Regions from separate parts of the Homo sapiens genome. Here region 2 is linked to region 1. Evidence: fine-mapped expression QTL. A gene starts in region 1. The other region holds a variant in brackets. All regions are shown on one strand. Distances are between the middles of the regions. Region 1 holds the start of SSH2 (slingshot protein phosphatase 2). Region 2 overlaps ANKRD13B (ankyrin repeat domain 13B).

Region 1 (2,905 bases):
ATTTTCAAAAATGGAGCCTAAGAGAATGGAGTGTAAACGAATGGGGGTGGGGCGAGGAGAGAAGGCAAAGACGGGCCCAGCGGGGAAAGGCTGGTTACTGGGTATTTTCCTTCTGAGAGCATGCTTTATTGGCATAGGCATCTGAGGTAACGAGCCATACAAACACGACCTTAGAACAAGAATGATCACGAGCAATGAGTGTAAGGCATAAATATCTGTAAGACGGAAATAATTTGACACTGATCACTAAGCAGCACCAGATGCTTCGGGACCTCATAAAGGAAAGGTAAGAGGTCCAGGAAACAGAGATCATTGCTACCCTCTGGGGTGGGGGGCAGGCGGGAGAAACCAAGGAATAACTACGGTTGGGCAGTTCAAAGCCTGAACAGTACAGAGCAAAAGAAAGCCAGCAAGTGACTAGGGGAAGGCACACACCCTGGCGAGTACGAAGAAGGGTGTGCAGTGTGCAAATACTGAACAGGTCTATGAAATGGTGTGGGTAAGAGATGTGGGTGTGGGTAAGGGGCAACGCAGGAGGCTCACGGTCCCCTCCCTGCAGCAGAGCAACAGAGGGTAAAAGAAGGGGGAGGGTGAAAAGCAAGAATGACTCATTACCAAAAGGAAGTGCTCAAGCCATAGGGAGGCATGCCACAGGGGATTTCAGGGCGAGGATTGTGAGGAGCTAGGTGCTCAGGGTGATGGGGGCAAAAATCAACGTCTTGTAGTTCCTGCTGCTAGTCTTTAACATGGGGGTGTGGGGGGGTTCGCGGCAGCCGAGTGCCAAGGCCTGGGAAGCGGCGCGGCGCGTGCGCAGTGGCGTTCGGCGGGACCCGCTGAGGCAAAGCGGAGCCGCAGTGACAGAAGCAAGCGGAGCGGCCGCCAGGAAGGACTCACCGAGGCGCAGGGGCTGGAGGTGGTGCTGGGGGTAGGTGACCGCTGGACCGTGACCAAAGCCATCTAGGCGCTGCTGGGTTGTTCCGGGCAGGGCATTCTTGTCCTGAGTGTGGGGGACGGGAGGGTGACGGAGCCGGGATGGGGAAAGGGGTGCGGGGTGGGGGTGAAGGGAACGGGGAGGAGGAGGAGGCCGCGGGAACGGCCGCAGACTCCGCACCCACCACCAGACTGTCGCCGACTGACGCTCCGAACGGGCGGCGGGCGGGCGGTTCCGCAGCTGCGGGGCACAATGAGCGCTCCCAGTGCGCAGGCGCCACCTGTCAGCTACCGCCTCTCCCCTCGGCGCGCGCCGCCGCCTGGTCGTAACCCTTGAGTTGCCGGAAGCTGGCCGAGTGCGTGCGCCTCGGGCCGCCGCACCCTCCTGGGTTTCCTCCTTCGTGCTGGAATCGCGCGGTTTGCCAGCACTGGGTGCTGTGGAGTGGGGTGGGGGAAGGGGCCGAAGGGAGCCAGCCCGGTGAGGGGTCCCAGGGCGGGGGGCCGCTGGAGTCTTCACTCCTGAGAGACAACCATTTTATGAGGTGGGGCGGCGCACAGCTTAACCAACCTTAAAAAAAAGCAGCTGAGATGAAAATCCTGAAGCAAACACGTTTTCTATTGGGAAAGGGCTCCGCGGAGTTTCAAACCCTCTCACTGGGCGCAGACAGAACTGGGCTAGACCAGTTTACTCCCTTCACCCCGGCTCTCGGGGGCTTTTTCTTAACTTTTCCCCCCCTTCCGTCTATGTTTTATGATGAGACTTCTGGAAAGAAAACCATTTTCCGTTTGATACCCTGGAAAGGTTTGTGGTACCCTCATGCTTCCTCTATTGCCTGTCTAAAGACTTATTCATTATTCCTGAGGAGAAGAGAAGCTGAGCGCGCCTGGGAGTCCGAGGAAGCCGGTTGTGAGGGTCCAGCCTGCTATTGACCTCTCACTTGCCTCCTGCTGTGAAGACAGTCTTTTAATTAAACAGGATTTGCTCGTTAAGCTTTCTTCTCCTTCGTCTCTAAATGTCATTCTTTCATAGACCTATGTAAAAATGTAGATTAAAAGATATTTTAAGGGAATGGTTTTCTCAGGGGTAAATTGTCTGCAGAACATAAGCAAAGAATGTAATGGAAAATCAAGATTAAAAAGGAAAAAAATTGCACAATGCAAATATCACTGATTATTTACACAAAGAAAGAGAGTTGACAAGGCTATTTCTCAGCTTGAGTGGATGAGCTGGTAAATACCACCGTACATATCAAAGCTGTAGAAAACACACACACTTGGGAGTTTGCAGTTATTAAAACCCACCCCCTCCTGTTTGTCACTCAAACACTCTTGGATCTCATTGCTTCTTTTAAACTGACAGGGCTGTCATGAGCTCTTTCTGGCTGCTGTACGGTTAAACGCCACAAGAGTCCTCTGTGCTGAGCCTTTGTTCTCTCCCTGGGGCCCTGTGGTTGAAATAATTAGCAGGGAGGTTCCATCAAGAATCAGACACTGAGGGTCCCTGTACTGTACAGTCCTATGTAGAGTGTAGTGCAGAGAAGCCAGCTGGTAGGCTTTTGCCCCCTGGTGGTGATCAGGAGTGCCTGTGAGACAAAATTAAACAAAGATGTATGGTTCACAGATTAAACAATCTGACTGTGTTTTCCCCAGAGCTCCGTAGTAAACAGGAAAAGAGAAGGCAAGTTTCAGAAGTAAGAACTTTGAACCAATGCATGGGAGACCAAAGAGGAAACTAGATACATAGCCAAAAAATACACATAGCTAGAAGCTGAATGAACTCAAATAAATGAAATATATGTGCTTTATGAACCAAAGTATCATTCTAGAAAAAGTAATATTCAAATCTGTAGGTCTTAGTACTTGTATGTTGATTCTCTGACTCAGGGAGGGCAACAATGATGTTCTACTTTTTCATGGTAACATACTCTTCAGAAATTCTTTTGGAAGATGAAAGGCTTAAGTCCATTAACCTTGC
Region 2 (2,905 bases), 330 kb before region 1:
TAGGAGGGGCACCATTCTTCAACCCACCATAGTAGTTTTTATCAAGTTTGGAAAAATTTTGGACGTTCTTTCTTTCTTTTATTATTTATTTACTTATTTTGAAATGGAGTCTCCCTCTGTCGCCCAAGCTGGAGTGCAGTGACACGATCTCGGCTCATTGCAACCTCCCCTTCCCGGGTTCAAGCGATTCTCCTGCCTCAGCCCCCAAGTAGCTGGGACTACAGGTGCCCACCACCACGCCTGGCTAATTTTTGTATTTTTAGTAAAAATGGGGTTTCACCATATTGGCCAGGCTGGTCTCAAACTCCTGATGTTGTGATCCACCCGCCTTGGCCTCCCAAAGTACTGGGATTACAGGCGTGAGCCACCGCACCCGGCCTATTTCTCTAAATTTGTCTTATTTGTCCTACTTCTTTATTCTGTCCTTTGGGATTCCAATAGATATATGTTACAATGCTTGATAATGTCTTACAGATTATGAGGCTCCATAGAGACAGGGTCTTGCTCTGTTGCCCAGGCTGGAGTGCAGTGGCGTGATCATAGCTCACTGCAGCCTCGAACTCCTGGGCTCAAGGGATCCTCCTGCCTCAGCTTCAGAGGAGCTGGGACTACAGCTGCTTGCCACCATGCCCAGCTAATGTAAAAGTTGTTTTGTTTTGTTTTGTTTTGTTTGTAGAGACAGAGTCTTGCTGTATTGCCTGGGCTGGTCTTAAACTCCTGAACTCAAGCCAACCTCCCGCCTTGGCCTCCAAAAGTGCTGGGACTATAGAAGCCCAGCCAACTTTATTTTTCAGTACTGTTTTTCTCCTCTGTGCTTCAGTTTGGAAAGTTCTATTGCTGTCTTCAAATTCACTGATTTTTAAATTGTGCAGTGTCTAATCTGCTGTTATTTCCATTCAGTGAATTTTTCATTTCAGTTACTGTACTTACTATCTTTAGATGGTCCACTGGGTTCTTTTTTATACCTCTCATTCCTCTCCTCATGAACATCTTTTTCATGTTTTTCTTTAAACTCTTGAGTATATTGAGCCATCTATCATCTTTATCATTTCTGAGTTTTGTTTCTATGAAATTATTTTTCTCCTGATTATAGGTTATATTTTCTTTCTTTTTTTTTTTTTTTTGAGATG[G/C]AGTCTCTCTCTCTGTTGCCCAGGCTGGAGTGCAGGGGCGCCATCTCGGCTCACTGCAAGCTCGATCTCCTGACCTCGTGATCCACCCGCCTCAGCCTCCCAAAATGCTGGGATTACAGGCTCACGTGAGCCACCGCACCCTGCCTATAAGTTTTATTTTCCTACTTTTTGGCATATCTAGTAATTTTTAACTGAATTTTGGACATTGTAAATATGATGTTAAGCATCTGGATTTGTTATTGTTCTTTAAAGAGTGTTGGGCTTTGTTCAGGCAGACTAGGTAAATTACTTGCAAATCAGTTTGACCTTTTTGAGGCTTTTTTTTTTGAGACAGAGTCTTGCTCTGTCACCCAGGCTTGAGTGCAGTGGGGCAATCTCAGCTCATTGCAGCCTCAACCTCCTGGGCTTAAGGGATCCTCCTGCCTCAGTCACTGAGTAGCTGAGGCTACAGGCACATGCTACCATACCTGGCTAATTTTTTGTATTTTTTGTAGACATGGGGTTTTGGTATGTTGCCCAGGCTGGTCTTGAACTCCTAGGCTCAAGTGATCTGCCTGCCTCAGCCTCCCAAAGTGCTGGGATTAGAGGTGTGAGCCACCGTGCCTGGCCTTTGATGCTAATTTTTCTTTTTCTTTTTCTTTTCTTTTCTTTTTTTTTTTTGAGATGGAGTCTTGCTCTGTCACCCAGGCCAGAGTGTAGTGGTGCAGTCTTGGCTCACTGCAACCTCCGCCTCCTGGGTTCAAGTGATTCTTGTGCCTCAGCCTCCTGAGTAGCTGGGATTACAGGCACCCATCACCAAGCCCGGCTAATTTTTTGTATTTTTAGTAGAGATGTGGTTTCGCCATTTTGGCCAGGCTGGTCTTGAACTCCTGACCTCAGGTGATCTGCCCGCCTCCGCCTCCCAAAGTGCTGGGATTACAGGCATGAGCCACTGCACCCGGCCTGAGGCTAATTTTTAATCTGTTAGGGTGGGTCTAGGTGAGCCTTTTCTCTAGGGATAGTTTAGCTCTACTGCTAAGGCATAACCCTTCTGAGGTCTGATTAAATATGCATCTCCACTCTAGGAGGCTGGAGCTTGATTATCTCCTTGCTTTTGGTGAGCTCTGAGAATTTACCATTTTATTGCTCCTTTTTGTGTGGTCTTACTGAGTTTCACTATACACATGTGAAGTTTAGTATTCAGGAAGACTTGAAGAGACCCCTATGCAGATTTCTGGAGTTTTTTGAGTAGTTTACTCTTTTCCAGAACTGTGCTCTGCTGCAACCTTTAATACCTTGGCTTCCCTGAATCCTGTCTCCATCTTCTCAACTCAGGAAGAGCACCATGCTCTGCTCGGGCTTCCCCTCCTTGAATTACAGTCTGGAATGTTCCTCCAGGCAGAAATCCAGGGATGTTACAGAGCTCACCTTGTTCATTTTCCTTACTTCAGGGATCACAGTTCTGGACTTCTAAAAACAGCTATTTCTCTTTACATATATTTTCTATATAGAGAAATATATATATATACACACACAAACACACACACACACACACATACACACACACATATATATATACACACACACGCATATGTATATATATATTTGAGACAGCGTCTCACTCTGTTGCCCAGCCTGGAGTGCAGAGGTGTGATGATACCTCACTGCAGCCTCAACCTCCCAGGCTTAAGCGATCCTCCCACCTCAGCCTCTGAGTAGCTGGGACTACAGGCACAGGCCATCATACCCGGCTAATTCTTTTGTATTTTTTGTAGAGATGGGGTTTTGCCATATTG

What was found. PIP is the estimated chance that this variant, and not a neighbour inherited with it, causes the effect.
Region 2: its variant is fine-mapped to the expression of SSH2 in whole blood (TOPMed, PIP above 0.99).

What each region holds. Positions count from the first base shown.
Region 1 is chr17:29,929,044-29,931,948 of GRCh38, forward strand. SSH2 (slingshot protein phosphatase 2) reads right to left here and starts at 1,185. Exons shown (of 16, transcript NM_001282129.2): 1 at 895-1,185. The coding sequence starts at 957. It also overlaps a transcript of EFCAB5 not described here. RefSeq lists silencers at 385-434, 945-1,224, 1,375-1,464, 2,198-2,367.
Region 2 is chr17:29,602,770-29,605,674 of GRCh38, forward strand. All of the region lies in intron 1 of ANKRD13B (ankyrin repeat domain 13B), which reads left to right. Among named protein-coding and RNA genes, the nearest start is that of ANKRD13B, 11 kb to the left of the region's middle. The variant G/C (reference allele first, on the strand shown) is at 1,131.